Regions from separate parts of the Homo sapiens genome. Here regions 2, 3, 4, 5, 6 and 7 are each linked to region 1. Evidence: fine-mapped expression QTL. A gene starts in region 1. Each other region holds a variant in brackets. All regions are shown on one strand. Distances are from middle to middle.

Region 1 (4,288 bases):
ACCTCTAAAAAACCCTGGCCCTCAAATTCTCAGGGAGACTGATCTGAGTAATAATAAAACTCCAGCCGGGCGTGGTGGCTCACTTTGGGAGGCTGAGGCGGGTGGATCACGAGGTCAGGAGATCGAGACCATCCTGGCTAACACGATGAAACCCGTCACTACTAATAATACGAAAAATTAGGTGGGCGTGGTGGCGCGCACCTGTAGTCCCAGCTACTCGGGAGGCTGAGGCAGGAGAATCACTTGAACCTGGGAGGTGGAGGTTGTGGAGGTTGCAGTGAGCTGAGATCTCATCACTGCACTCCACCCTGGGGGACAAAGTGAGACTCCGCCTCAAAAAAAAAAAAAAAAACCTCTAGTCTAGTCTCCCTTTCAACCGGCTCTGCGTGAACTAAATCTTCTCCATGGCAACTCCCCTGCCCTGACAAATCAACTCTATCTGGGCAGCCCGCAGAAAGAACCCACTGGGGCCGAGCGCAGTGGCTCACACCTGTAATCTCAACACTTTGGGAGGCTGAGTCGGGCGACCACTTGAGGTCAGGAGTTTGAGACCAGCCTGACCAACATGGTGAAACCCCCTCTACTAAAAATACAAAATTAGCCGGGCGTGGTGGCGCGCGCCTGTAGCCCCAGCTACTCGGGAGGCTAAGACAGGAGAATAGCTTGAACCTGAGAGGTTGAGGTTGCAGTGAGCCAAGATCGCACCACTGCACTGCACTCCAGCCTGGGCAACAGAGCAAGACTTCGTATCAAAAAAAAAAAAAAAAAAAAAAGGAAGAAGCCATTGGGCTGTTACACCAGGAACAAAAAATCTGGCTTCACTGGTCCCTGGATGAGGGTCCCTCACCCTCAGAACAGTTCTGCACGAGAGGCATCGTTATCCGCCCCAGCTTACACCCGAAGAAACAGGCAATCAAGTATCAGGTCCAAGCGACAGGGCCAGAATTCACAGGCAGGAGGATCTGACGCCGAACCCGCACTCCTCCCACAAGGCCCCCCACCCTGCCTGACTCCTAAAATCAAAGCGCTGTCATTCTAAAATGAGGAAGGCCAAATAATGCAAAAGTTCTTCTTACTCAAAGGGTCTACAAAGATGATTTTACTGAATTACAAAACCCCATGTAACTACTTAGCTATGAGCTCCTAAGGACTTGTTTGGAAATAACCCATTATAGACAGCGGTAAAGGTGGGTCTGAACTCGGAGAATTTAGACTCATCGAATGGCCTCCACAGGGGTACCTACACCCCACCCCGCCTGCAGAGGCACGGACCCGGCCAGCCCGCTCTGTCCACGGCGTCCACGGAACGGACAGGCTGCTGCCCTCCCCACCCGAGGCGCGCTTTGTTTGCAGCAGGTTTGTTCCCTGCGTCCCCCTCTCTCATTCCCTATCTCCCTGTCCACACAACATTCACAGAAACCGCGCTCGGTGGAGGCAAGCCTGGGAGTCCACACTGCAGGGCTGACCAGCTGTCCGGAGGGGTCTGGCCCGAGTCTCCCCAGCCCAGGGACCTCCTCCAGTGACGGAGACGGGGGACGGAGGGCTTCTGCACCCCGCCTCCCGGGGAGGCCGCAGAGGCTTCACCCCGTGCGAGAGCAGGCGCTCCGCGGGCCACGGTCCCCCCAAGGGAGGCGCGCGTCTGCCCCGTGCACCTAACGCCGCGCCGGGGTGGCCCTCTCCCGCCTAGGAAGGCCGCGCCCCACCACGGCCCGCGGGACCGCGCACCGGCAGCCCTCGCAGAGCGGCCGGCGCCGCCGGGCTGCGGTCCCCGCCCGGTAAAGTGCACTCAGCGCGCCGAACCCGGGCCGGGGGAGGAAGCGGGCACGCGGCGCCGCCCACGCACCGCGGAACCGCTCCAGGGCCACCTCGCGCTCCGCGCCGCCGCCGTGCACCTCCCGCAGGCGGCCCAGCAGCGCCCGGGTCTCCGCGCTCTCGCCGAACGCTTCCAGCGCCGCGCCAAAGGCCAGTGTCTCGTCCTCCGCCTCCTCCTCGGGGCCGCCCGCGGCCGGTTCGTCGCTCAGGGCCATCTCGGCAGCCTGGGGACCGCGCCCCCGCCTCACGTGTTCGCAGATCCCACTCCGCTAGAGCGCGAAAGCCAGGGATGAAGGATGAGGGATGAAAAGGAGGCGCCCGCTAAGGCGGCAACCGACGCTGGCCCCGCCCCGCGACCTCCGACCCCACTCGCCGGCCTCGCTACGGAACGCGTCGGCCGCCAAAATACCGCGCGCGGGACGGCGCGTGCACTTGAGGACGCGAGCGGGCACGGGTCCCAAAGGCTCTGGAAGAGCGCGCCGTGGACCCCACAGGGCGCGAGCGGAGCCGGGACCGCTCAGCGGGGCCTGAGCACGCGGTGGGCGGGGCAGGACAGGAGGTGGGGCCTGAGACGCGGTGGGCCGGGCTGCGGGGTGAGGCCGCCGCCGGAGGACAGCGGGGCGGAGCCTGAGCAGGCGGTGTGCGGGGGGGCGGGGCTTCGGGATGGGGCCGGGGGCCGCCAGGGCGGGGCTTGAGCACGCGATAGGGGGCGGGGCTGCGCGCAACGGGGGCGGGGCCCGGGCACGCGTGGGTGGGAGGGGCAGGGCTTGCGGTGGGGCCGGAGACAGCGGGGCGGAGCCACAACACGCCGGGGGGCGGGGCGGGGGCGGGGCGGGGGCGGGTGGGACCGGGGGACCGCGGAGCGGGGCGGAGCCTCAGCATGCGTGGACGGGGAGGGGCGGGGCCTGAGCACGCAGTCGGGGGCGCGAGGCGAGCCCCGGGACCCACCCCTCAGAGCCAACCGCCCTGACACTTATTCGCGCCACGCTGGGACCCGCGCGGATCACACGGGCCCCGCGCCGAGTGGTGGCGCGCCCCAGAGCGGGAGCGGGAGCGGGGCCCGGAGGCCGCGGTGGGCGCTGCGCCGACTTTGGCCTTGGCTACCGGGTCCGCGTGCGTTTCCCCTGAATCGCCGCAAAAACGTCCGTGCACAGCTCGCCGTGCGTCTGGCCCTGAAAGCAGCCCCACGAGCGGAGGAACGAGGCGCAGGACGCCAGCCGAGACCCGCTGCGGGCTTTATTGGTCCCCAGGATCTGGGAGGGGTCGGGGGAAGGGGGACAGGGACAGGGGGGACGGGGACGGGGGACGGGGACGGGGGGACGGCGATGGGAGACGGGGATGGAGGATGGGGACGGGGGAACGGAGACGGGGACGGGGCAGGGGGGACGGGGACGGAGATGGGGGACGGGGATGGGGGGTCGGGGACAGGGGGATTGGTATGTGGACAGGGGGACAGGGGGACGGGGGACAGGGATGGAGGGACGGGGACGGGGGGACGGGGACAGGAGGATGGGGGGACGGGGGGATGGAGACGGAGGGACGGGGAGACGGGAACAGGGGGACAGGGACGGGGGCACAGGGACGGGGGACGGGGGGACAGGGACGGGGAGACGGAGACGGGGACGGGGACAGGGGAAGGGAGGGCAGGGGCCGCTACTTGAGCAGCCTTCGCATGGTGCCCAAGGAAGGGCTCCTGTACTCCCGCCCGAAGTGGTTCCAGTGGTTCAGGTAGTTAAACAGCTGGTAGAGCAGCAGCCGCTGGTCGAAGCCCGGAGCCTTGGGGATCTTCCGGTGGTAGGCGGTGAAGAAGGATCTGGGGAACCCCCCAAACATCAAGGCGATTGCCAGTTCAAACTCGGAATGGCCATAGAAGGAAGCCGGGTCGTAAATAATGGGCCCCACGTCGTCCTCAGCCACGTTTCCCGACCAGAGATCCCCGTGGAGCAACGCGGGGACAATCTCTAGGCCACAAAACAGATCCGGGATCTTCACCTACGAGAGCAACGGCTGCAGTTATCGCTGGCCTCTGGGAGCCCCGGTCTCATCACCTCGTTCTTGGAAATAAGGCAAAGCCCACTCGCGATCTGCTTCGGTGTCCAGCCCCAGCACTGCCTGCCAAGCCCAGAAATAGGGGCCACCTGACTTCAGGGGAGTCTAGCTTTGTCTAACTTAGGATTTCCTCCTAATTTAGGTCTAGAATCCCCACACAGTGGAGAACCTCTGAGGTTATAGTTTTAATCGACCCACAGAATAGGAACCAGTGTTGCGCTACCTTAGCAAACTCTGGCCACTTTTATTTCGCTACACATATATGTCTGCAGGTTTTGTTTGGTTTTGTTGTTTTTTTCTTTGAGAGGGAATCTTGCTCTGTCACCCAGGCTGGAGTGCAGTGGCGCCATCTCGGCTCACTGCAACCTCCGCCTCCCGGATTCAAGTGATTCTCCTGCCTCAGCCTACTGAGTAGCTGGGATTACAG
Region 2 (4,387 bases), 140 kb before region 1:
CGTCCACACAGTGAGAACCACTGAGGAACCCTGAAACACAGGCAGCTGATGAGGCAGGCAGCAGATGAAGGAAGCTACCTGCACGGATTCTAAAACGGGGGAGCCCCAGCGACAGGAGGTCAGTCAGGATGGCGCCTCCTGGAGGGAGGGTCATGTGCACCACACTGACCACAGTGGTGGTCATTCAACAGCTCACATCTGCCAAACCCGCTGCCACACTTAAACCCATATTGAAAACTGGCAATTTTACTATATGTAAACTATATGTAATAAAGTAGATGTACAAAGATAAAGCTGATTTTTTTTTTTTTTTTTGAGACGGAGTCTCATTCTGCTGCCCAGGCTGGAGTGCAGTGGCGCGATTTCGGCTCACTGTAACCTCCGCCTCCCGGGATCAAGTGATTCTCCTGCCTCAGCCTCCCGAGTAGCTGGGATTACAGGGGTGCGCCACCATGCCCGACTAATTTTTGCATTTTTGGTAGAGACGGGGTTTCACCATGTTGGCCAGGATGGTCTCGATCTCTTGACCTCGTGATCTGCCTGCCTGGGTCTCCCAAAGTGCTGGCATTACAGGTGTGAGCCACCGCACCCGGCCCAAAGCTGATTTTTTTTTAAAAAGGCTTTGACTTAGGAATATACAGGATACTGAAAGGGAAAGCCACGGAGCAGGAGGAAATATGTAGCAAGGAAGCATCTGAAAAAGGAATTGTATGCAGAATTCATGAAGAATTCTCAAATTCTCAACAGGAAGAAAACGACTAACCTAATAAGTAAATGGGCGAAAGATGTGTTAAACACGCCCCTGAAATGGATGATGACTGAAACTGCATCATCAGTCACTAGAACACGAGTTAGTCAGCTGCTCCCACACCCCCATGACAATGGCCAAGCTTGAAAGACCAACACCCCAGCACCAGCACGGACCCCAGATCCCGGACCCCGAGCTTGAAAGACCAACACCCCCAGCGCCGGCAAGGACCCCAGATCCCGGACCCCGAGCTCATCCAGCACCGGGGGCGCGTGGCACCATCACGCCGAAAGCCATGTGGCCATTTCAGAAAAAGCTACAGGCAGGGTGTGGTGGCTCACACCTGCAAGGCCAGCATTTTGGGAGGCCAAGGCAGGTGGATCACTTGAGACCAGGGGTTCAAGACCACCCTGGGCAACATGATTTGTCATCTCCACAGAAAAATACAAAAATTAGCCGGGCGTGGTGGCGTGTGCCTGTAGTCCCAGCTACTCGGGAGGCTGAGGTGGGAGGATCGCTTGAACTCAAGAGGTCGAGGCTGCAGGGAGCCGCGATTGCGCCACCACACTCCAGCCTGGGTGACAGAGCAAGGCTCTGTCTCAAAAGGAAAAAAAAAAAAAAAAAAAAAAAACTGACAGCACAGCCACCCAGCTCTGGGCATCTATGCCAGAGAACAAGAGTGCAGGCCCAAAGACAGATGTGTACACACATGTTCACCGCAGCTGCACCTGTGACAACCCAGACAAGACACTGCCCAGAAGCCCCTCACCAGGTGAGTGGAGACAGACGCCACGTACCACACCCCTGGCCCTGGAGGCTCGGGGGACGGTCCCCACAGGCGGACAGTCTGCAGGAAGCATGGAGCAGAGGAAGCCAGTGTGAGTGAGGAGAGTGCCCACTGCCTGAACCCATTCACACAGAGCTTTGGGAAATGCAGACACAGCTGCAGTGAGAGCAACAGACCAGGGGTGCCTGAAGAAGGGGGTGTGGGAGGGGAGGGACCCCGAATGGGAAAGGGGAAACCTGGGCCTTTTCTCGTCTTGATTGTGGTGATAGGTACGAATTTACAGATGTTAACATTTACAAAAATGTACCTATTGAACATGCACCAGCTTACTGGGGGTCGTTTACACCCCAACGAGGCTGTGATGATGAACAGGAGAGTGGGGCGACGGCTGGTCCCCCCATCCTCCTCGTCTCGCCCCACAGTCTTCCTGGGGTGCCCGTTAGTTCAATTCCAGTCTGTGTGTCCGAAACTCCAATTTGCAGAGGAAACATCTCCATGTCAGCACGGCTGATGCTTCCTCGCAGGCCAGCACGTGCAAGCTGAGGCCCCAACCTCCTCGCACTCAACGACACTGTCGCCCTCAGCTGTGCCCTCCACCTGCGGAGTGATGCCAACACAGCTCTGAGACCCTCTGTAATGCCCTGGCAACTCCCACCTTCCTCCAGCGGGCACACCTCCAGGCCCCCAGCCCTCTCCCGTCTCCCAAGAGCCCTCAAGCCCTCTCCTTATTTCCAGTCACCAAATACAGCCACAGGGATATGTTCAAAACAAAGACCTGACCATCAAAGTGCCATGACCTCAGGACAATCCACACTCTTCACTATGGCTCAAAGGCCCCCAGCAGCTCCCCGCCAGGGCCCAGGGCCCTGCTAACTCTCCTCCCTGATGGGCTGTGCTCAGTCCCATGCCCTCTGCTGAACAGGACCACTGCCTCCCTCACCCCAAGGTCCAGGCTGACAGCAGGACCCTGCCTCGGGTGCAGGGGGGCCCCGCGGTACTAGGGTGCAGCCATGACTGC[A/C]GGTCCCCGTGATGCCGCCCTCAGGATTGGAGGGGCCTGCCTGCCGGTGCGTCCTCACAAGTGGCATCTGGTCTGCACGCAGGGCCTGGCATCGTGAGGAAGCCAAACACACTGGGGGAAGACATGCCTGGACCCAGGTCTTGGGTTGGCAAATGTTTTTATAAAACGCACACAGCTAATTACATGCGAGTTTTAGGCTGGCTTAGAAACCTCAGCAACAAGGGAAATATGCTGAAGCTTCCCATAGCTGTCAGGTGTGTTACTCAGGAAACTCGGGAAAAGGTGGTAGATTGTCTTTTTCTTTAGATGGAGTCTCACTCTGTCACCCAGGCTGGAGTGCAGTGGCACGATCTCGGCTCACTGCAGCCTCCGCTTCCCGGGCTCAAGTGATTCTCCTGCCTCAGCCTCCTGAGTAGCTGGGATTACAGGCACCCGCCACCACGCCTGGCTAATTTTTGTATTTTTAGTATTCACGGGGTTTCACCAGGCTGGTCTCCAACTCCTGACCTCAGGTGATCTGCCCGTCTTGGCCTCCCAGAGTGCTGGGATTACAGGCATGAGCCACTGCATCGGGCCAGTAGATTTTCCACATAAAATATATGGCCAAGTATTAATAGGAAAGAACTGATAAGGCAAAAAAGGACATTAAATGTTGAGGAAACCTGAAAGGGTATAAAAATACAGATAAGTGTGTTCAAAGATCCTTCCTGGGAAAGAGGCCAAATGCTACATTTTCAAAATTCTGCCCAGGCTGGTGACGGAGAAACGTCCTTTCTGCACGGTCTACACAGCAGGGCTGTTGGGGAATCGATCTTTAGGGTATTTAATGGTTAATGTTAAAAATGCATCGGGCATGCTTCTGGTCCTAATTTAAGGCAAATAAATCACTTCATAAAGTCACACCCCACTGCACTCCAGCCTGGGCAACAGAGCTAGATTCTGTCTCCAAAAATAAATAAATAAAGTCACACCCTTTTTCACATTTCTGCTGCAATGGATCAACTAAGATAACTGAAGTAACCTCCCCAGTACCTAATTACACAACTAAAACAGTTTGATATAATTCTGTAAACTGCAATTAGAGGTGCTAAACATTTGTTTCTAACCTGATTTCTAAAATACCTCTTACTCATTTCATAGACAATCTACAGATAACTTCAACTTCAAAACACTTCCTATTACCGAAACAGAAAGAAACAGTCCCTTCTAATCCAAGATTTCACGGTGGGAAAGCATTTAGGACATCCAGTAGGGAAGCATCAGGAGGAGGTGTGGCCGTGCTTGCAGCTGCTTCCTCTCAAACTCCAAGCCCCACACAGAACCAGCACGGGTAAAACGGGGCGACCAGGAGAAAAATCATAAGCAGAGACAGCACTCACGGCAAGGCCGCACTCCTGAAGCTGAGCCCCTCTTTAACACGTGAGTAAATGTCCCCTATCTAGCGTAGTAAAGCATGAGGTGTGTCCAATCAACATGAAACACAAGTTTCAGTCACTGTTCCCAATTCCATTTTTAATTTTTCACACAAAAACTACATTCCATTGAGTGGACATTACAGGATGAAAAAAGAAAATGGTGGTAGCTGATTTCTGACATCCAATCTGATTTTAGAGTATTCTATTTTTGTGATATACATTAAAGACTTACCTTATAACCAGGAAACAGTTGGATCTGTTACCGACGGCAAAATAGTCAGCTGTGGTCAAAATATCAATACCATGAGGGAAAGTGCCCTAATAAGAAAGTGGAAATGGGGGAAAAAGAAGAATTTGAATGAACAAAGGCATTTCACCAAGTTCAATAATCACATCCACAGACATTTACACTCATGAAC
Region 3 (4,387 bases), 170 kb before region 1:
CACGTCAGCCTCATTTAGAGAGACAGGGCTCCGGGGGCGCACTGGGAACAGGAGTTGGGGCCGGACAGCAGGAGACCCCCGGGAACCCATCCCAAGGCCACCAGGAACCGTGGTGGGAGGGACGGCAATTGCTGCACAGAGCAGGAGCGGGCAGAGAGTCACCAGTCCCGCCGCGTGCGGGGCTCAGTGCCACTGTCTCCTCGAACCCCCACCTCTGCCACCTACGGAGGAGCCTCTCGTGACCACACAGCCAGCAAGTGGCAAACACCAAACCCACGTGTTCTTTCCACCGCTCCCCCGAAGCCCAGGAGCCGAGGCCAACAGAGCAGCCTTGGAGAGGCACTGGGGGCGGGGCAGGTGGGGGCCATGAGCAGAGGAGGTGCGTCGTCTACAGGGTGCTGCATTCCACGAGTCACCACCTGTGCCAATCCCAGGGGCAAAGTGCACCAGCATCATGGCCAGTGTGAATTAATCATGGACTTTTGAAATAAAATTTTGAGGCACTGATCATGATGCATTCAAATTCAATTAGTAGAACGGTACTTGGATCCTACAGAATGTTCAAGTTCCTTAAGAAAAAAAAAATAAGAAAATTGAAGATGCTAAGGAAAAAGAAATGCTAAGCATGGAGGAAGTCAGAGAATTACAAGACACCTAAATGTACTTCCATTCTTCATCCTCAATATCAAAACCTAGTCAACGTTGGTAACCATGGTTTTTTTTGTTTTTGTTTTTGTTTTTGTTTTTGAGGCAGGGTCTTGCTCTTGTCACCCAGGCTGGAGTGCAATGGCGTGATCTCGGTTCACTGCAACCTTCGCCTCCCAAGTTCAAGCAATTCTCCTGCCTCAGCCTCTTGAGTAGCTGGGATTACAGGCACGCGCCACCTCGCCCCGCTAATTTTTGTATTTTTAGTAGAGATGGGGTTTCACCATGTTGGCCAGGCTGGCCTCGAACTCCTGACCTCAAGTGATCCACCCGCCACTGCGCCGGGCCCATGGTTTCTTATCTATGCAATGAGATCAGCGTTACAGCTCTGTGAGTCCAAAGTCCACCTGTAACCCCCAGGACGGGAGGGGAGGGCAGGTGGCCGGGGACACACACACACACTGGCACCCACACAACATGACCAGGTCAATGTGTGCGAGCAGAGGTCCTGGGGTGCTGTTTTCTCATCTGCACAGGAGCATCATAAAGGGAGTTTCCAAACCTCAGATCCTACAGGACACGGAACTCAACAGAGCACAGTTACTATTGATGCAGAAAAAGTATTTCAAAGGTAACTATAATTAAAACAGCCAGAAGCAATAAAAAATTAAACATTCGGATTCCAATGGCTGTATTGGATTTTCTGGTTATAAACCGTGTAGACGCTACCATCCGGGATTCCAAATAGAATTATGCCCCCATTTGTCAGTTATCAGGCTACTGCAGGGACAGCCTCATGATGCACAGTCGCCAACACAAACACCATCCGTGACTAACACACTAACACCGCCACAGCGCCGGCCGGGAACGCCCATGCTCACTGTACCTTCATCTGCTGGCGGGAGTGACTTGAGATGAGATGGAGATGTCTCAAAGTGTCATTTATCAGCCATTGCCAACCATCTGTCAAAAAATCAAGTTAGCGTACCCAGGCAATCAAAAACACCATGAAATCAAAAACAACAGCAAAAACAGCTTCTATTAATACTAATCTTAAAGTCGATGGTAACCTTTGAGAGGAATCTGTGGAAAAGCCAAAGTGAACATTCTCCACGTTGTGTTAAGTCTAAGGCCCCTTCCTCTCATGGCTGTTAAATTGTGTAAGCTCTTATTGAGGGAAATACCAGCATTCTGTAAATTTTTATACATCACATTTTGGGAAACTTTTATTCTTTTGTTACCCCTAAATCTTTTCCTTCAAACGGTCTCCCCCGGCTCCCACCAATATAAACCCAAATCTTTAACTCAATTAGATCCTGCACAAGCAACAAATGTGAAGGCTATTCAATTAACAAAAAAAAAGTCCTAACTTCTGAGGCTGCTGAGACAGCCCCGGGACACCACAGCCCTGGGGGCTCCCTTCACTGTGCTCTGGCAGCCCAGTGTGGGGGGCTGCTGAGGAACTGGAGCCGCCTCTGCCCACAGGGTCCGTGGTGTCGGCGGCCGGCACGCTCCTGGTCCAC[G/A]AGGGCCTGGGTGGCTGCAGCTCCCGACTGTCTGCCTGGGAGAAGAACTGACCCAGAGTGCCGGGCCCTGGGCATGGAAGCGAGGAGGTGGGGGTACTGAGGTGACGGCGGGGAAGGGCCCTCCTGTGTTGGGGGGAGAGGGCGGTGGGTACCCATTATTTAAGCAGGTTCTTGTAACAACTTCAAGGCAACGTATCCGATTAATATCTTGAACCTTTAAGCTATAATCGTTTATCGCCCCCATCCTAACAGGTTCATTTTTACCTTTTAATCTGAAGTCATTCTGTAAGAAAATGCTATTATTAAAAACAAAAGCACTTACCAATTACGGTGTCACCTCTAAAGGGCATTTTGGAAAGTGACAACTTTTCTATTAAAACACACACTGGAAAAAAAAAAAAAAAGGATAGACGCAATGTTACTTTTCTAAAAGCGCCTGCCACAGCGGCTTGCCTTTGCCACATTCTGAGTTGTGTGCGGCCAGCTCCTGCCCCTCACCCGCCCAACCTACCCTGCTGCCAGGGCTGGAAACATCCCAGAACCATTTCAGAACCACCATGAGAAGCCCAAGACGCCTCCTCCGCTGAGCAGCCTGAAGAAAGTGCTGCAGACCCAGCCACGTGGCAGAAGGCCCATGTGTGAGCCCACGTGCACTTCAGAGAAGCCGGGCCGGCCTGTCAGGGAGCTGCAGACGTCCCTGTGACAGGCTGTACGGGAAGCATAGCGGCTTCTGCTCCTAGACCTGTCACTCAGGACCCAAGCGACAGACAGCCATCACCTGCAATGCTCCAGACCACAGGTCATGCCTGTCACTTCCCCACATAGCTCGTCACTCACACTCTCCATGACCAGAAACGTGGCCCTGACCAGCCACGAGGGGGCCAGGACGCACGAGACAGAGACGACTGGACAGCATCAGCAGCTCCCACGGCCACACACTGCTCTAGCTCCCACCGTCTCTACCTAACAACGGAACCCACTCGCAGACGCCTGCTGCACACTTGTTCATGGTATTTGCTATTTCTCCTGAGGGACTAAACTCTCCTTCCATTTTTTGTCACCGTGAACAAGGAGGCCTGACCGTGCTACAGATGCGGAGGCCGTCGGTCCACCTGGCGTCCCTGCACACAGGACAGGGACCACACACACACTTCCCATCGTCACAGATACTGCCACTCATCAAACTGAACAGACCAGACAACTCCTGTTCCACGAGAGACCCTGCTCTGTGTCTGTCAGCACCAAGATTCTTCAGTGCCAACCGCAGCCGACTGGAAAGAGGAAAACGGTCCTCTCGATGTGAAGTAACCTGGTACTTCCATGCCTCCGAGGTGAGGCCGGCACCCTCACCGTCCACGGCCACGTGAGTCTGCTCCTCTTCTGCATGAAATGCCCACACGTCTGCTCTGCCCCATTTCATACTGGATCCTTTACCTCGTCACAGGCAGTTTTACAATTTAGTCTTTGTACACTAATTAACTTTTTACCTTTTCGACTGTAGAACAGACGTTTATTCTCAATCTCCGTTTTCCCTACCAACCTACACATGGTCTATTCTTCAATATAAGGCCCAACATAATTATCTCCTTTTGTTTCTACCTTGTGGAATTATTATGATAAAATCTGTTAGCTGGGGATTACATGCCAAGAGGGGGGAAACAAAAAGAAACAAAAAACCCCAGAAAACCAGTTCTTACCACAAGTTAGAAAAACCCAGCGAGGGGCTGCTGGGACCTGACATTCAGGGTCTTCTTTAAACTCAGAGGAGGGGAGGAGAAAGGAAGCGCCGGGCGAGACTCTGGGCCCCCCCCGTAAACTACTTCTCTTTACTTCTGCGCAGATTTGAAAATTTCTAAACTAAGAAGTTTTCTTCAGAGACTGACACTGTCCTACAACGTCTCCTAAAATTTCTTCGAGGATTTTTATGATGGTAGTTTTTATGCGTAAGTTATTAGTTACTCTCACATTTAGTTTTAGATACGACTTTACCTTCTTCCACGTGGGCACCTGTGACACCATCACTCACTCAAGTGACACGCCTTTGTCCCAGCGCGAATCCTTTCAGCTCTGAACAGAGTACTGCTCTGATGTGTGTTGAGGACTGGGAAATGAAAGTCTTAACTAGTTTTTAAAATAATTTTCTTGGAGATGCACCTGCATGTGAACTTTAAATGTATTTTATAATCAAGTTAAAAACGGCACGCGCGGCTCAGCGGTGC
Region 4 (4,387 bases), 320 kb before region 1:
TGACAGGCATATGTGAGCGTGTATGAGCGTGTGGGAGCATGTGGAAGCATGTGGGAGCATGTATGAGCATGTGGGAGCATGTGTGTGCATGTGGGAGCATGTATGAGCGTGTGGGAGCGTGTGTGCGCATGTGGGAGCGTGTGGGAGCATGTGGAAGTGTGTGGGAGCATGTGGAAGCGTGTGGGAGACCCAGCAGGTTGGGGAAGGACTGGCCCTTGTCCCAGCTCTGGCACCCATGTTAGCTTTTGGTGAGGGACACAGTTTCTAGCACCTTCTGAGAAAGGACCTGTTTGAGAACAGCCAGACCCTGCCAGCCCCCACCCGGCCCAGCCCGGCTCTCAGAGAGGATGGGGTGGGACCCCATGTTCAGCGCTGGCCACCTTCGGGCTGCTCCGACAGCATGGGGTGGTGGGCACAGAGCCCTGCCCGTGGGGGTTGACACCTGACCCAGTCACCCTCGTCATGGGGCTGACGACGGCACCCATCCCGGGCACCCCTAGGAGCACAGGGGTCAGGCCTGTGTGCGGACCTGCCAAGTTCTCTGGGTTTCATTTTGTCCCCACCCCGCTGCATTCTCTCTACTTGTGCACACGTGATTTCCACAAATGATAAGCAGCCTCAACCATTTCCTGAAAAATTGGGGTTTTAGGTGAACCTCGGGGATGTTTTTCTACTGAAAAAGGTGAAATTAGGGAGATGCCTCCTCTAGGTCCGGAGGGGGACTCTGGCAGGGCGGCCGCCAGCCCTGCCTCTTGGGGTCACCGCGGGAAGGTGCTGGGTCCTGCTGTCCTCACATGCAGATGCGATTTCCACCACGGCAGCCCCCACGGCTGGGCTTACTGGGCCCGCGTGCCATGGGGGGAGCACCCGAGTTCCAACCTGCAACCCCCACGGATCCCACCCTGGGAGGACACCCCCATTGTCGCCCCCGCTGTCGCCTCCCGGGACCCCCGCTGCCGCCCCCCGCTGTCGCCTCCCGGGACCCCCATTGTCGCCCCCGCTGTCGCCTCCCGGGACCCCCGTTGTCGCCCCCCGCTGTCGCCTCCCGGGACCCCCATTGTCGCCCCCCGCTGTCGCCTCCCGGGACCCCCATTGTCGCCCCCCGCTGTCGCCTCCCGGGACCCCCGCTGCCGCCCCCGCTGTCGCCTCCCGGGACCCCCGCTGTCGCCCCCGCTGTCGCCTCCCGGGACCCCCGTTGTCACCGCCGCTGTCGCCTCCCGGGACCCCCGTTGTCACCCCCGCTGTCGCCTCCCGGGACCCCCGTTGCCGCCCCCGCTGTCGCCTCCCGGGACCCCCGTTGTCACCGCCGCTGTCGCCTCCCGGGACCCCCGTTGTCACCCCCGCTGTCGCCTCCCGGGACCCCCGTTGCCGCCCCCGCTGTCGCCTCCCGGGACCCCCGTTGTCACCGCCGCTGTCGCCTCCCGGGACCCCCGTTGTCACCGCCGCTGTCGCCTCCCGGGACCCCCGTTGCCGCCCCCGCTGTCGCCTCCCGGGACCCCCGTTGTCACCGCCGCTGTCGCCTCCCGGGACCCCCGTTGTCACCCCCGCTGTCGCCTCCCGGGACCCCCGCTGCCGCCCCCGCTGTCGCCTCCCGGGACCCCCGCTGCCGCCCCCCGCTGTCGCCTCCCGGGACCCCCGCTGTCGCCCCCGCTGTCGCCTCCTGCAGGTGGGATTTCGGGAGGTTCTTGGGTCATTCTCATCCCCGTGGAGGCTCAGGCTTCATTCCTTTAGCGAAACCTCATGTGTTTCCCGCACTTCCAAAAACGTCCAGCTGGAAGCCCTGAACTTCAGAAAGCAAAAGCAACTGAGTTTTCCCTGCACAGCCTGTGGCTCTCCCGGCCGGAAAGCACTTGTGTCACCCAAATGCCTGGGTCCTGGGCTGACCGTCCTAGTCTTTTGGAATCTAAGCTGAGCTGACTTAACCTAAATCCCTCCTTCCCAGAAGGGCTAAAGTGATCCTTTTCGTAGCTCCGCTAAGAGGCCTTTATCTGTGGCCCGGCTCATCCCAGAGGGGACGGGAGGGGTTGAGGTGAATGCCTGCAGGGTAACAAGATAAAGCACAGTGTAAGATGAGTGTGACACAAGGGGACAGGTCAGGCCCGGTCAGTGTGACACGAGGGGACAGGTCAGGCCCGGTCAGTGTTGCCACAGGGGCCACGAGGGGGGGCTTCAGGTGGGTTCCCCAGGACCCCCAGGACTCCGCACCTAGGCCAGAGCTCCGGACGGCCAGCAAAGCCAGCGAGACCTGATGCCTCAGGGCCTGCAGTGTCCAGTGCATGGAAATGGCCTTGGGAGGAGAGGCGGGTCCCGAGAGAACCCCAGGCTCTCCCC[C/T]AGGCGCAGGCACCCACACCACCTGGGCAGGCGAGGCCGAGCCTCCCCCCGCAGTTCCTCAGGACCTTCCTCTTGCCAACAGGAGCCCAGCGTGGAATCCCGCAAAGGAAACAGACAATGGGTCCGTGTCCACACCATGGCCACCAGAGCGCAGGTGTCACCTCCCCTTGAAACCCACAGCTGGTATCTTCACCATCGCCTCCTTCACAGGCAGAAAACAGACGCGGAGAGGCCAGCTCTCTCCCGGAGGCCGCGCGGCAGACAGGGGGCCGGATCCTACCCAGCGGGTCTCTCGGGTCCCTAGGGGGTAGTCCCCAGGCACCCAGACCTGCCTTGAGAAGAGTGTCTGTCTTGCCACAGCCTTCCCTGAGAGGCCCTGCGTGGCCCCAGGTAAGAACATGCACCGTCCCTCCAGGACTCAGGGTGAGGGTGCAGAGGGCGGGCAGCCGTGCCCAGGGTGAAGCCGTGGCCCCGGGTGAGAACACGCACTGTCCCTCCAGGACTCAGGGTGAGGGTGCAGAGGGCGGGCAGCCGTGCCCAGGGTGAAGCTGTGGCCCCGGGTGAGAACACGCACTGTCCCTCCAGGACGCACAGTGAGTGTGCAGGGGGCGGGCAGCCGTGCCCAGGGTGAAGCCGTGGCCCCGGGTGAGAACACGCACTGTCCCTCCAGGACTCAGGGTGAGGGTGCAGAGGGCGGGCAGCCGTGCCCAGGGTGAAGCCGTGGCCCCGGGTGAGAACACGCACTGTCCCTCCAGGACGCACAGTGAGTGTGCAGGGGGCGGGCAGCCGCGCCCATGGTGAAGCCCGGTGAGGCAGCCTGAGGCTGAGAAACACAGTTTCTTATGACAAAAGAAATTCACTTTCATGACAGAAAATGCGGATGAACACAGAGAACGACGTAAGAGTATCCTGAAACCTGCAGGAGGTAACAGCAGGGGTGGCATTTGGGGTGTCCTCCAGGGCGCAGGACTCTTGAGGGGATGGCTGGCTCGGACCCGGGGTGCTCCTCCAGCCGGACACGGGCCCAGGAAGCCCGCACTGTGGGGCTGAGTGGAAACTGCATCTGCGTGGCGGGCACGGCACGGTGTCTGCGATCTGGAGCTCTTCAGGGAAGGCCAGCCTGCGGCGGCGATGACGATGACAGATGGCGAGGGTCCGAGAGCCTCGTTACCCCACAGTGACCCGAGACGTTCGGGACCAGGAAACTTCCCGAAGGTCGGCCAACCCGAAAGTGGCCAGGGCCTCCAGGCACCAGGTAACAGAATAAGAAATATACATTTGGCCTCTGCCCTGGTTCCCCACACCAGCTCCGAAATCGCTTGGTATTTCCTGGGTGCTAGGAGCGTTTTTTTGTTCAAGGAGGTGACTCTTGGGGGCCCCTAGACAGCTTCAGGATGGGGTACGCTCACCGGGAAGACCAAACATCAATTAGAAGCTTGGAACTTTCAGTCCCACCGGCCTCCAGGGAGGGGAGAAGGGCTGAGATTGAATAACGATCCATTGGTCATGCCTGCCGGCTTCCATTAAACCCTTTAACAGATAGAATCCGGGAGCTTCTGGACTGGGGAACGCATGGGAGTGTGGGGGGTGGACAGAAACTCCTGCACTTGGGTCCTTCCTGGACCCCGCCCTGTGCACCTTGTTATCTGGTTGTCCATCTGTATCCTTTATTACATCTTTTATAGTGAATCAGTGAACGTAAATGAGTTTTTCCCTGAGTCCTGTGAGACTTAGAGCAAATTATCAAGCCTGGGGAGGAGTCGTGGCAACCCCCAACTTTGTAGCCAAGTCAGACGGAGGCGTGTGAACCCTGGGCACCCGATACTTGGGACGGTCGCCTGCAGAGGGGCAGCTTGTGGGACGGAGCCCCAGCCTGCGGGGTCTGCGCTACCTGCAGGTAGTGTGAGAGTCGAACTGAATCGTGGGACACCCCGTTGGTGTCCACTGAGAACTGGAAAGTTGCTTGGTGTGAAAATCCCGCACATTTGGTGCAAAGTGTTTAGAGTGTAGAGAAACAGATGTGTTCCGTTTCAGCCTGGGTGACCAGCCGGGGCCC
Region 5 (4,387 bases), 130 kb before region 1:
CTGGCAGCGCGGACACCGTCAGCACCACATCCTGACTTCCGGGGCGTGTGTGTGAGGCGCCGGCCCTGCCAGCCACAATGCACATGACATCCCGTCTGTTCTCCTGTGTCTCGCACTGTCTGTCGCCCCAGACCCAGACCCAGACCCACTGGCCTTGCTCTCCGGTTTCACAGCATCCCGCCTGTTCTCCTGTGTCTCACGCTGTCTGTTGCCCCAGACCCAGGCCCACTTGTTCTCCAGATTCACAGCATCTCGAGCCTGTTTTCCTGCATCTCGCACTGTCTGTCACCCCAGACCCACTGGCCTTGCTCTCCAGGTTCACAGCACACCTCTCAGGCAAGGGGCTCACGTATCCTCATGTTCTCTGCGCTCCTCTCTCCTCGGCCCCATGAGTCCCCAGGGCATGGGCTCGGGGATGCTGAGCTAGGAGACCTACAAACTACAGCCACAGAACTGAAACTCGGGGGCATTTATCAGAGAGAGCACTTGTCCCCCAGCCTCCAGTGCTGGGCACAGGTGCCCGCTCCAGGCCCTGGAGATGGCCCAGAACACGCCACAGGGCCACAGTCTCCTCCAGCATGTCCAACGTCAGGGGCTGGGGGGGAATGGGCTTGACAGCGGGGTGCTGGGCACAGACTGAAGGAGGCAGGAGAAACAGGTGGGAAGGTCCCATGGGTGCGAGTGGGTCTGAGTGAGCAGCCCACAGAGGTGAGCCCACAGCAAACAAGGAGGAGCAGGACAGCTGGCCCCAGGGCCGGTTGAGAAAGTCCTCCCTGCGGCTGGACTCTGCACTTCCTCGGAGAAGCTGGGGCATGTGACTCGGGCCTTGTGACCAAGTGCTCTGCTGATGGGGATTTGGGACGCCCAACCATCCAGGAGCCCCAGGAGAGGCCAAAGGTTGGGTGGGGCAGCAGCCAGATGGCCAAGAGGGCCTGGGTTCTGGGGAAATGCCTGCAAGTCTCACAGGCTCTGCCTAGGAGGGAGGGAGGGAGGAAGGGAGGAGGGGAGAGGGGGGAGAGACAGAGAGAGAGAGAAAGGACCCCTAGAGTGTGGTCACTGAGAACCACAATAAAAACAGAAATTCATAGATGGAAAGGGTAGGAAGTTAAACTAACAATATAGCATAAACATAGGAAGCATCTTTTGAAATAAGAATGGCAAATGAAATTAAATAAAACAGAAACAACATAATACAAACCACCAGGTGCATTTTCCACCCCAATCAAGCTCAGACGTGCCGAGGCCCAGAGCGGGCTCCACAACGACATCAACGCAGCCCAAAACACGGCCACCAACCATGGGCAAAGCCAGGAGGGCACGTAGGCACGGGGTACCCCAAGGCTCAAGCAGAGGGGCCCCTCCAGCCCCAGCAGCAGGCAGCAGGCCCGTATCGGCTGGGAGCGAGAAGCTTCCATCCAGAGCGGGTGCGGGGCTGTCAGGAGTGGCCTGGCAGCTCTCCCCGCTGGCTGCTCCAGCATCAGCACAGCCCAGACCCACGTTCCGGGACCTCCCCAGGATGCTGCAGAAGCTCTGCACCCCTCATCGGCGGCAAGCGGCCTGACCGAATGAGCTACCGTTTACTTGGTTTAATTACTAACAACCACGGATCACCAGTGGATAAAGCGTTTATCTCACATTTTAGAGAAATGTTTGCTTATTGCAGGGACAATCTGTGGTCTCAGCGTGGAAAGGCCCTCTTCTACCACAGGGCCGCTTCTCAGCTCACCACCGGGCCGAGAGAGACCCCAGCGTCCAGGCCACAGCAGCAAGCCCAGGTGGTTGCAGTGTCCAGCCAGCCTTGCAAACAGACGCCAGGAACCAGAGCCAGAAAAAAAACAGAAGGATGGAGCCCAAGGGGAATAGGGTGGGAGGCTTCTGAGGGCTGGGGGAGGCCCTTCCCAAAAGCACTGGCCTCCCTGCCCTGAGGCCCTGCCCTGTGTGGCCACAGCCACAAACAGAGCCCAGAGCTATGGGAGTACACGGCCTCCTTCCCCGAGTTCCGCCTGGAGCCATCCAAAGTCTACCCCTCGGCCACTTGCTCACTCACACTGCAAGGATGGCCACAAACCACCACGCTCTGCACCCTGGGGAGACGGCAACAACAAAGTCCCTCACGTACGGGCCACTGCTATGCTCCGACAGACCCTGCGTCCTCCCCGCCCAGCCCCTCCTGCTCCTGTGGACAGACGGACGGACAGACAGGTGTCACTGTGTGGGGAGCCTGCGGTAGGGACCCTGCAGTTCCTGCTGATACCTCCGGGCCCAGCACCTCCCAACACCACGGAGGCCCACCCGCTACCTGCCCTGAGGGCCTGGATGCCTCCTCCTGCCAGATCCTTGGGGCATCCAGCAGCACACCCAGGTCTTTCAGTTCCTCCACGTAAACAACAACAAAGTCATAAGCCCAACTACCCTGGTCACAGCATATCTGTCCCCACCCTTGTCTTCAGCAGAATAATACCCACTCCCAAAGATAAGGGTGTCCCACTTCAAACATGTTCCTTTACCTGACAAAGGGG[A/C]ATTAAGGTTGGCAATCAGTTGACCCTAAGATGGGGAGAGGGCCCTGGATTACTCCTGCAGCCCAGCGGGTGCCGAACACAGTGGTACACACCAGCGGCCCTGGCTACACCTGTGCTCCATCTGTCTGTGGGAGGCAGAGGCAGGAGGATCCCTTGAGCCCAGGAATTTGAGTACAGTCTGGGCAACACAGCGAGACCCCATCTAGACAGACTGATAAGTAGACAGGTAAGGAGATAAATACATACAGGAAGGAAGAAGGAAGGACAGACACAGGAGGCAGAAGAAAGGACCACAGGCATAGGGTACGTGAAGGATGAAGCGAGACGTGGACGTGGCTGGCTGTGAAGGTAGATGAAGAGCCCATGAGCAAAGGAATGCGGGCAACTCAAGCAGGGAAGCAGAGTCTTCCCTTGAGCCCCCCTGAGCCTCCAGAAAGGACTGGAGACACCCAAGGAGACAGGTAGGCCTGTGACCGCCAGGTCCGTCCAACAATACACCACTCCAAAAAAAAAAAGGAAAGATCACTGGGATGAGTCTTAAGGGCACTGTGCCAAGTCAACGAAGCCAGAATGAAAAGCCTACTGATTATTTCCGTTTATAAGACACTCCAGAAATGGTAAACTATCAGGACCAAAATCAGACCAATGTTGGCCCAGGGTTGGGGAGCAGACTGGGGAGTTTTTGGGGGAGACGGACTGTCCTGTTTGGTGCTTGAGTTGTAGAACACAACCACATGCAGATTGAAGAAGCAACAATCACAGACCTGGGGAGCCCAGCACAGAGGGAAGCGGCAGACGTGTCTGCATCCCGGACCAGCACAGAGGGAACCGGCAGACTTGTCTGCATCCCAGACCAGCAGCACCAGAAGGGCTCACCCGAGCGATGGCCTGGCAACGCTATGCCCAGGGTGAGGAGGATGCACAGAGCGTCCCACCCTGAGTGGTGAGTCTGTTGCTCACACAGGTGTGGGCTGGCAGCTCCAAAATCACGTCAGATGCATGACGGCAGACGCACGGCAGCAGAGCGTGCTACACAGTAGGCCCAGAAGCGGCACACGAAGGGAGGCCAGGAGGAAGCTGGGCTAGAGCTGGTGTCTGTGCAAACATGGACTGTGAAGAGGGGCACACACTCAGCTACAGAGGGAGGGGACCTAGAGGCAGCTGAGGCCAAGCCCGGCGTCCTGGATTCCAAATACTGTTCTCCACCGAGAGGATGTGAGACTCCTGGGAAGTGGTGGATGCTAGGGCTGGGGCAGGGGCAAAAAGATAAGCCAGGTGCATCTTGTGGTGCCAGAAGGAAAGAAAAAAGGCTCAGGAAAAAAGAAAAAAAAAAAAAAAAAAAAGAACAGGATCTTGCTGAAAGGACACAGAAGCCAACCTGAAGTGGCCAAAGCTGGAGCAATTTGAGCAACATTAATAACAATAGTTAGTGTTAGATTATAACTCAAACAAAACTAGTAACAATAGTGTTAGATGATAACCCCCAAACAGGATGAGCACCCATGAGTCCACACTGGCAGGAGCGAATGATGAAATAAAGCTGGGAGAGGAACGAGCCTTCCTTAAGAACAAGCTGCAATCACTGAACGTCGGGGTGGGGACACAGGAACCACCACCAGACCACACAACAAGGTCTTTGGACAGAGCTCGGATGGGGTGAAAACCAAAGGAGAAACAGCAGGATGTTGCATAACCTTCGAGTACCCCACAAGAACACTGCTAGTTACAGAGGAAAACACAGTCTCCTCAAGTGGAGGCACCTGGCAGGCCCCATCTTGACCAGGGATCAAGGTCCAGACCACGCAGGACCCGTTGTGGGGCACTATATGGGCCCAACAGCACACGGAGGAGGGCAGGTCACCTCACAT
Region 6 (4,387 bases), 93 kb before region 1:
ATGACTTGAACTCGGGAGGCGGAGATCGCACTACTGCACTCCAGCCTGGGTGACAGAGCAAGACTCTGTCTCAAAAAGAAAAAAGAATTAAATTGTGGCGTTATTTGTACAAACAAATTAAAATTTAGGTATTGGCATGACAAATCTCAGACTTCAACTTACAAATAAAGCCCTCCACTACTCATCAACGTCAACAAATGTCCAGAAAGAAAGCTTTCCCCAAATTCTCTCATACACCTTGGCTGTATCTCACCACAAGAGCCAAATCAACTCCACTTTCATTTCTCTGCATCGCTGAGTTGTCTGACACAGTCAGTAAAACCCCACTGATGTTCTCAGGGTTGTTTCTTTTTTTTTTTTTTTTTTTTTTTCTTTGACATGGAGTCTCGCTCTGTTGCCCAGGCTGGAATACAGTGGCATGATCTCGGCTCACTGCAAGCTCCGCCTCCCAGGTTCACACCATTCTCCTGCCTCAGCCTCCCGAGTAGTTGGGATTACAGGCACCCACCACCACGCCCAGCTAATTTTTTGTGTATTTTTAGTAGAGACGGGGTTTCACTGTGTTAGACAAGATGGTCTCGATCTCCTGACCTCATGATCCGCCCACCTTGGCCTCCCAAAGTGCTGGGATTACAGGCGTGAGCCACCACGCCCGGCCTGTTTCTTTTTAATGAGAAACCAAATGTCTCCTCGGCCACCTGTAGAAAATGGCTGAGCGGTGCCCACAGCGCCCAGAGCAGGTTGGGCCCAGACCTTGGCCACGACCACAGGCACATGGCGGGTGAGGACCCCGGGGGTGCAGCTGGGCTTGGCCATGTTAGCCTGTGTGGCCCAGAGACCAGACACCCGAGGCCCGGCTCCTGGACACGCGGTCCCAGGCAATGAGGGTGGGTGGGGAGGGAGGCGCCCCTTCTCAGCTGCGCTCTGTTCAGTTAAATCAACTTCCCAAAACACAGGGGCCTGCAGGGGTTCTCAGGCAGGTGACCATGTAACACAGGGGAAGGGCTGTGACCCGCTCCTGGGCTGCTGCTCCGAGGTGACGGGGGCAGAGAGGTGTCCAGGCCTGGCTGGCGGCTTCCAGACAACCCGAAGGCAGGGCCTAGAGCCCTAACCCAAGCCAGCAAGCCTGTGTACCACCATCTCCGAAATCTAGGACAGTCTCCAAGCTTCCCCTGGGTCTCAGCCAGTCTCACTACCGCCAGGGACGGAAGGCAGAGGCCACAGCAGGGCCCTGCAGCAGCAGGAAGGGCACCTCACTAGGGAAGAAAACCAGGAAAGGAAGGGGAAGGGGAAACAATGGAAGTCCCAAAGAGAGCAGCGGGCAGCAGAGGGCTGGACGAGAGGACACGGCACATGGGACACAGCGCATGGAGGGGGCAGCAGAGGGCTGGACGAGAGGACACGGCACGCTGGACGCAGCACGTGGAGGGGGCAGCAGAGGGCTGGACAAGAGGACACAGCACAGAGGACGCAGCGCGTGGAGGGGGCAGCAGAGGGCTGGACGAGGGGACGTGGCATGCCGGACGCAGCACGTGGAGGGAGGCACAGGGCTTACACCCTCACCCCCTAAGCCTCCCAGTCCCATCCCACAGTTCTGCCCACTGGCCTGAGTCCCTTTAGAAGCGCAGAGCCCTGAGACACAACACAGCCAGGCGAGAGGTGCCCTCCGGCCCGGAGCCGTTCCTGAAGCTGTGCCCTCGGGGGATAGAATGTTGCTGTGTCTCCCCTACAGCCGCGTCAAAATCAGACTGGGAGGCTGATGCCAGGCCTGTGGATTTTCCGCAGAGTTTTCATTTCCTTTCTCCTTTCCTCTGGATGCAGCA[C/A]CTCACAAGGAACACAAAGGATTAAAACAGAAACAATCTTGTATTTTAAGAAGATCCAAGATGTGACGCCCTTCCTTCATCACAGGTGTTCTGTGAGAGATGCTCACAAGTCCCTTTCACGGACAGGAAGACCGAGGCCCAGGGAGGTCAGCAATTGCTGCCCCAAGTCACAAAGGGTGAAGATGGAAGAGCCAAGACTTGAGTCCCAGCACACAGTGCACTGGAGAGGATGCTGCTGCGGAAGGGACCGGGGTGGGCTGGGCAGGACGGAGAGGAAAGGGCTGAGCCGGACAGGACGGAGGGAGAGCAAGGGGCCAGGCCAGACAGGACAGACGGAGAGGAAGGGGCTGGGCCACACAAGATGGACAGGAAGGGGCTGAGCTGGACAGGACGGAGAGGAAGGGGCCGGGCCGGACAGGACAGACGGAGAGGAAGGGGCCGGGCCAGACGAGATGGAGAGGAAGGGGCCGGGCCGGACAAGATGGAGAGGAAGGGGCCAAGCTGGACAGGACGGAGAGGAAGGGGCCGAGCCAGACAGGATGGACAGAGAGGAAGGGGCCAGGCCAGACAGGACAGAGAGGAAGGGGCCAGGCCGGACAGGATGGACGGAGAGGAAGGGGCTGGGCCGCACAAGATGGACAGGAAGGGGCTGAGCTGGACAGGATGGAGAGGAAGGGGCCGAGCCGGCCATGTCCTGTGCCTCACCCCCGACCTGGAAACTAGGAAAGCTCAACCAGGACTGCACTTCCAGCCTGTGTGCCCCTAGGGAAAGAGGCCCTGACACAGAGGCCGCGGCGCCAGCACCTGCCTGGGTCCCTGGCACCCCCCAACACACACTGGCACCGGTGCTTACCCCCAAGAGCAGCCACCACCCCAGGTACCCCTCCTTCCCCACCCAGGGAAGCACCCCCCACCTCTGGTGTAACTCTGCTCATCGCCCTCTGGGCTGGGTACCTCGGCCATGTTCCCGACCTGTGGGTGGGGGGACTCCACAGGCCAGGTGCGTGGTGCTTCTGAGTAAATGGACCAGTGCAGGTGATGCACCTGGCACGGTGCCCCACACCATCAACACGCAAGAAACATCAGCTGCCACCCCCATGACGGTTCCTAAGATTTGGTCAAAAACCTAATCGCAAGAATTCTGAGTAACACAGGGGGTTGAACATGTAAAAAATAGCGGGTAAAATCCCACTAAAAACAGCAGAAACGGACCATTTTCTTTTTTCAAGAAATAAGCTACAGGGTAGAAGAGGAAGGGCAGGGAAGGCAGCACCAGGACCACGGAGGAGCCTGGAAGTGCAGGGACAGCAGGAAATGCCTCAGACCAAGAAGCCCAGCCCTCCCCTGGAGGGAGGCAACTCAGACTCCCCCTGATCCACAGGACAGGTCCCTAAAAAGCTCCAGATCTGTGGCACCAGAGAACTCTGTGGGGAGGGGCAGGGTAGGCCTAACCCAAGGAGCACTGGGGCAGGAGACAGGGCTGACTCTCCGAGGTGCTCAGCAGAGGCCCTGGAAGGCAGGCAGCCACACTGACGATGCAGGGAGGGCACCAGGCATGGCATGGCGCTCCTGCAGTCCCAGCTACCCGGGAGGCTGAGGCAGGAGAAGCACTTGAGACCCGGAGTTCAAGTCCAGCCTGGGTAACACAGCAAGACCCCAGGTCTTTAAACACACACACACACACACACACACACACACGGAGAACATCCACCCCCACTCCTCCACTCCCCACTAAAAGAAAGCTATCACTAAAATCCTTAGATAAGAAAAGCTACTGAAAGTACTGCATGAGAATGAGATGCTACAAAAGGAACACTCAGAACAAAACAGAGCTCATGGAAACCAAAATCAGAAACCAAGTACTTAACAGAAGTGTTGAAATATAAAGTTAAGAAAACTAAGACTACTGAGGATAAAGGAAAGAACCTGCAGGTGAGAAACAGCTGTCCATAAAAATCAGGAATCACTACTGACATAAAATTCTACAACACATAAAACTAATCCATGGTGGAAAAGTATCAGCCTGCAGTTGCCACGGTCTGGGTGGGGAAGGGTGGCACTGCTGTGACGGAACTCTCTGGGGCCATAATGGGAGAACACATTTGTCAAAACTCGTTAAATGATCCTCTTAAGACCTGTGCCCTTCACTGAATGTAAACCTTACCTTTGAAAGAAGAATCATAAACTAATAAGAATATGCCTGAAAAGTGTTTGGGGCAAAGCATACTGATGTCTGCAACTGACCTGAAATGCAGCAAGACGATTAAGCTGGATGGGGAGGGGAAGGGAAGGGTAAGTAAGCTGGACGGGGAGGGGAAGGGAAGGGTAAGTAAGCTGGACGGGGAGGGGAAGGGAAGGGTAAGTAAGCTGGATGGTGAGGGGAAGGGAAGGGTAAGTAAGCTGGATGGTGAGGGGAAGGGAAGGGTAAGTAAGCTGGACGGGGAGGGGAAGGGAAGGGTATGTAAGCTGGATGGGGAGGGGAAAGGAAGGGTATATAAGCTGGACGGGGAGGGGAAGGGAATGATAAGTAAGCTGGACGGCGAGGGGAAGGGAAGGGTATGTAA
Region 7 (4,387 bases), 210 kb before region 1:
GGAGGCCGGTGTCAGAGGCCCCCCAAACCTCGCGTGCCACCCACGGCCACAGAGGCCCCCCGCTTTCTTCTGGAGCCCTGACTGCTTTCCTGTCACGTGAACCCCCTGGGGTCCCTAAGCTGATGTCAGTGGATGAGGAGGATCAGGCTCGTCCCCCCGCCCCGAGACACCCAACACACCCGGGCTGCTAAGGACAAGATGCCAAAACCCGGCGAGGCTGCGTCACCTGGTGGGGAAGTCCCCGCAGCCGTCTGCAGGAGCTGTCCTCACCCAGGTTCTCACACACACACACACACTGCACGTGCACACAGACCACATGTACAGCATGCACACACATACGTGCACGAAAGTATACACACGTACTCACTGCACACGCTCACTGCACACACGCACTCACGTGCACACACACTGCATGTACACACATCTGCACGGTACATGCAGGCATGTGCACTCACTGCATACATGTACTCATACTGCATGCACAGGCCCTCACTGCACACACGTGTACACATGCGTGTACACACATCCACACAGTACATACAGGCATGTACTCCGAACACCTGCACACACTGTACACGTGCTCATGTACACATGCACTCACCACACATGCACACTGTGCACACACAACATACACCCCCACACAGTGTACACACACACCATACACCCCCACACATACACACCATACACCCCCAGTGTACACACACACACACCATACACCCCCACAGTATACACACACACCATACACCCCCACACAGTATACACACACACACACCATACACCCCCACAGTGTACACACACACACATACACCCCCACACAGTATACACACACACACACCATACACCCCCACACAGTATACACACACACACCATACACCCCCAGTGTACACACACACACACACCATACACCCCCAGTGTACACACACACACACCATACACCCCCACACAGTATACACACACACACACATGCTTCAGTGTCCCCAAGTCACTGACTGGGATAAGCATCTCCCTGTGTCCCAGGTGGGGTCCGGACTATTGAGGTGGCTGCAGAGGGTTGGGGAGGAAAAGGTAGACTCCAGGCAGGACCTCCCTGACAGTGCCTAAGCCCTGCAGCTCCCTGAGCTGACAGAGGGGACCCCGTGTCCCCCCATCCCCCCCATCCCATTGCCTGTGGGGGTTCTGCTACAAACAGGGGGTGCCACAGGGTTGGGGGGGAGTCACAAGTTTATCCCGGGAGGCGGAGGCAGCAGCAGAATCGTAGAACAGCGAAATCCTGCCCCGATCCCGAGGCTGAACCCACGAGGGCCCTGCTCAGGGGAGGCCCGTCACCAGCCAGTGTTGGTTGTGTCTGGCCCAGACCCCACCCCGGAGGAGACTCCCACGGACACAGCTCCCTTGACACAGCAGAGGGCATCCCAGGACTCGGCCAGGGCAGGGTCTGTGGGGTACCGGGCTTCAGCGTGGCTACATCGCGGCCATTGGGGAGGACAGCATCTGGGACACATCCCACGCCGTTCTGGCCCCGTTGGCCTCTGCATCCCCTGCCCCTCTAGCTTCTGGCCCGTCCAGCTCCTGGGGCTTTGAGACGGGCTCAGCCCGGGCAGCTCCAGGAGCAGGGTTGAGGGAGAGGCACACACAGGCAGACAGCGATGGGGCACGTGGGGAGGGGCTGCGGTGGGAGGAGAGAGGGCGGGGCTGGGAAGGGCCCGGGCAGCGATGGGGCTGGGCGCTGGGCAGAGCAGCAGGTCATGGGAAGGAGCCTGCTCCCCCCGGGACAGCAGCCTGGGGTCGACTTGTCACAGCAGAGGGAGAACAGAGACCAGGTTCCCAGGGGAGTGGAAGGGTTCGGGGCAGCGACCCTGAGGCAGAAGGTCGTGTCCAAGTGTGAACGCTGGGATTTTATGGGATGGTTGCATGTGTCC[T/G]TATGGACAAAGGTTTCTCTGGGAAACTGGACTTGGGTCAAGTCCAGTCCTCTGCGTCCTACAGAAATTCTGCCTTCCAGAACCTTCTAGATTCTTAAGTGACAGCTTCTCATCTGTCCCCACCTGTTGGGGTCTAATGGAAGGGGTGGATCCCCACCTAGGCATGTGGCTACGTCCAGCTGGGGCAGGTGGCCTGACTGTAGGACAGCCAGTCTCTCTTAGGCATTGGGCCAGGTGTCCACTCCACTGGCAACGTGAGCTGAGCACACATCATGTCCCTGTATGTCAGCATCTGTGTGCATCTGTGGGGCCTCCGGCCTGCCTATCACCCTCTTCTCCACCGCAGGACGACCATCTGGACCCACCGCGTCCGCTTCCTGGAAGAGCAGGCCCTGCCCCGCTGGGCGGCCTTCACCATCTGGAACGCTGGCAAGCAGGGGCGCCGGCTGTACCGCAGCTTGACTGCCGGCAGCCAGCGCAAGGTGAGCATCCTGCCACCCTCCAACACTGCCTGCCCTGCCCCCGTACTGTCCCACAGCACAGGCCCTGGCCCCGGCCTGTCCAGAGCTGCCCTTCTGTGCTTGTCCCCAGGTGGTGGCATTCTGTGACGTGGACGAGAACAAGATCAGGAAAGGCTTCTATTGCCACGAGGACTCTCAGGTGTGCAGGGCCGCATGGTGTCACCCTTGGGGTCAACCACCTGCTCCGGGGCTGAGGGACAGCTGCTCCGAGCCTTCCCCCTTGGCAGAGTCCACCTGGGCCGTGCTGGCTCCTCGGGGCCTCCAGGGAGCCCAGCCCCCATTCTTGGGGGGAGAACCCCGCTGTCCCTCGTGGGTCTAGGCCTTGGGGTAGCCCACCCTGGTCAGTTCTGCAGTCGGGTGTCAGGCGGGGGTGGCGGGAGCCGGGTTCCTGCTCTGAACACCTGCCGCAGTCTGTGACCCTGGCACGTTATCTGCTGCCCAAGCCCTGGCTCCTGTGTGAGCCAACTTGGTGGCTGCGTGCACCCTGAGGGCGTCTCTCCGGGGACAAGCTCCAGGCTCGGGCAGGACTGATGGCCACTGTCACTCTCAGGAAAGACCCAAGCCCCGAATCCCCATCCTGCACTTCCGAGCCGCCCGGCCACCCTTCGTCATCTGCGTGAAGCTGGTGAGTGTGGGGCCCTTGGCCGTGGAAGGGCTTGGGGATCCCGGGCTCTGCCACCTGGACAACCCGCCCTGCTGTGCAATGACTGTGTGGCCTGGGATGAGACCCCAGCCGATGGTGGGCATGGGGACAGGTGCCACAGCCGTCCACAACAGCACCACAGACCAGGCTGTGGGGTGGTGGCCGCTGCCCTGGGGGCAGGAGGCAGCTGGAGAGGGTGGCCTGCATGGGTGTGGGGGGGATGGATTCCGGTCTCTCTTCTGTCTTAAAATACCCATAAAGCCAACATTTGTTAGAAACTTGCAAAGCACGAGGCCCTGCGGTGCCATGTCTGAGGGGCCAAGGCCAGGACCTCCAGCTCCCGTGGACTGAGGTGGCTGCATCGGGGATGTCCTCAGCCCCTGAGTGTGAACGACCCTTGCCTGGGGTGGGCAGGTGATGGGTGCCTCGGGCTCCAAATGCAGCCTTTTTCCCCAAGCGTGGGGAGTCCAGGCTGGCTGCGGGGGGCTGAGGTGAGTAGTTTTTTTTTTTAATTTTACTTTAAGTTCTGGGATACATGTGCTGAACATGAAGATTTGTTACATAGGTTTACATGTGCCATGGTGGTTTGCTGCACCTATCAACCCGCCATGTAGGTTTTAAGCCCCGCATGCATTAGGTGTTTGTCCTAATGCCCTCCCTCCCCTTGCCCCCCACCCTCCAACAGGTCCCAGTGTGTGATGTTTCCCTCCCTGTGTCCATGTGTTCTCACTGTTCAACTCCCACTTATGAGTGAGAACATGCGGTGTTTGGTTTTCTGTTCCTGTGTTAGTTTGCTGAGGATGATGGTTTCCAGCTTCATCCATGTCCCTGCAAAGGACATGAACTCATTCCTTTTCATGGCTGCGTAGTATTCCATGGGCTATATGTGCCATGTTTTCTTTATCCCGTGTATCATTGATGGGCATTTGGGTTGATTCCATGTCTTTGCTATTGTGAATGGTGCTGCAGTAAACATATGCGTGCATGTATCTTTATAATAGAATGATTTGTATTCCTTTTGGGTATATACCAATAATGGTATTGCTGGGTCAAATGGCATTTCTGGCTCTAGATCCTTGAGGAATCACCACACTGTCTTCCACAATGGTTGAACTAATTTACATTCCCACCAACAGTGTAAAAGCATCCCTACTTCTCCACAGCCTTGCCAGTATCTGTTGTTTCTTGATTTTTTAGAAATCGCCATTCTGACTGGTGTGAGATGGTATCTCATCATGGTTTTGATTTGCATTTCTCTAACGACCAGTGATATCTCATTGTGGTTTTGATTTGCATTTCTCTAA

Direction of the effects. Alleles are on the strand shown, and positions count from the first base shown. SD is a standard deviation of normalised expression in the study named. Not every link is listed here.
As copies of C replace A in region 2, the expression in monocytes of the gene that starts at base 2,156 in region 1 goes up (moderate effect, 0.67 SD a copy in BLUEPRINT).
As copies of A replace G in region 3, the expression in tibial artery of the gene that starts at base 2,156 in region 1 goes down (small effect, 0.24 SD a copy in GTEx).
For the expression in fibroblasts of the gene that starts at base 2,156 in region 1, T is the low allele of the variant in region 7 and G is the other (small effect, 0.29 SD a copy in GTEx).

Evidence for each region. PIP is the estimated chance that this variant, and not a neighbour inherited with it, causes the effect. A credible set is the group of variants that fine-mapping cannot tell apart.
Region 2: its variant is the best candidate, but not a certain one, in a credible set for the expression of TBCD in monocytes (BLUEPRINT, PIP 0.75).
Region 3: its variant is the best candidate, but not a certain one, in a credible set for the expression of TBCD in tibial artery (GTEx, PIP 0.62).
Region 4: its variant is the best candidate, but not a certain one, in a credible set for the expression of TBCD in whole blood (TwinsUK, PIP 0.66).
Region 5: its variant is the best candidate, but not a certain one, in a credible set for the expression of TBCD in whole blood (TOPMed, PIP 0.70).
Region 6: its variant is the best candidate, but not a certain one, in a credible set for the expression of TBCD in whole blood (INTERVAL, PIP 0.58).
Region 7: its variant is the best candidate, but not a certain one, in a credible set for the expression of TBCD in fibroblasts (GTEx, PIP 0.68).

The regions. Positions count from the first base shown.
Region 1 is chr17:82,749,933-82,754,220 of GRCh38, reverse strand. It overlaps TBCD (tubulin folding cofactor D), which reads right to left and starts at 2,156. Exons shown (of 39, transcript NM_005993.5): 1 at 1,844-2,156. The coding sequence starts at 2,027. It overlaps FN3K (fructosamine 3 kinase), which reads right to left. Exons shown (of 6, transcript NM_022158.4): 6 at 3,025-3,804. The coding sequence ends at 3,466. RefSeq lists silencers at 1,595-1,914, 2,605-2,964.
Region 2 is chr17:82,893,446-82,897,832 of GRCh38, reverse strand. It overlaps TBCD (tubulin folding cofactor D), which reads right to left. Exons shown (of 39, transcript NM_005993.5): 17 at 4,201-4,286. Among named protein-coding and RNA genes, the nearest start is that of ZNF750, 56 kb to the right of the region's middle. RefSeq lists a silencer at 1,771-2,030. The variant A/C (reference allele first, on the strand shown) is at 2,554.
Region 3 is chr17:82,918,722-82,923,108 of GRCh38, reverse strand. It overlaps TBCD (tubulin folding cofactor D), which reads right to left. Exons shown (of 39, transcript NM_005993.5): 24 at 2,491-2,553; 25 at 1,532-1,608. Among named protein-coding and RNA genes, the nearest start is that of ZNF750, 81 kb to the right of the region's middle. RefSeq lists an enhancer at 2,052-3,251. The variant G/A (reference allele first, on the strand shown) is at 2,169.
Region 4 is chr17:83,065,419-83,069,805 of GRCh38, reverse strand. No RefSeq gene overlaps it. Among named protein-coding and RNA genes, the nearest start is that of METRNL, 12 kb to the left of the region's middle. RefSeq lists an enhancer at 1-166. The variant C/T (reference allele first, on the strand shown) is at 2,332.
Region 5 is chr17:82,878,535-82,882,921 of GRCh38, reverse strand. The region is part of intron 14 of TBCD (tubulin folding cofactor D); the gene reads right to left. Among named protein-coding and RNA genes, the nearest start is that of ZNF750, 41 kb to the right of the region's middle. RefSeq lists an enhancer at 1-237. The variant A/C (reference allele first, on the strand shown) is at 2,520.
Region 6 is chr17:82,843,341-82,847,727 of GRCh38, reverse strand. All of the region lies in intron 13 of TBCD (tubulin folding cofactor D), which reads right to left. Among named protein-coding and RNA genes, the nearest start is that of ZNF750, 5.5 kb to the right of the region's middle. RefSeq lists enhancers at 1,908-2,407, 2,408-2,909. The variant C/A (reference allele first, on the strand shown) is at 1,824.
Region 7 is chr17:82,955,373-82,959,759 of GRCh38, reverse strand. QTGAL (queuosine-tRNA galactosyltransferase) reads left to right here. Exons shown (of 13, transcript NM_001009905.3): 9 at 2,266-2,401; 10 at 2,511-2,579; 11 at 2,991-3,065. Among named protein-coding and RNA genes, the nearest start is that of QTGAL, 94 kb to the left of the region's middle. The variant T/G (reference allele first, on the strand shown) is at 1,920.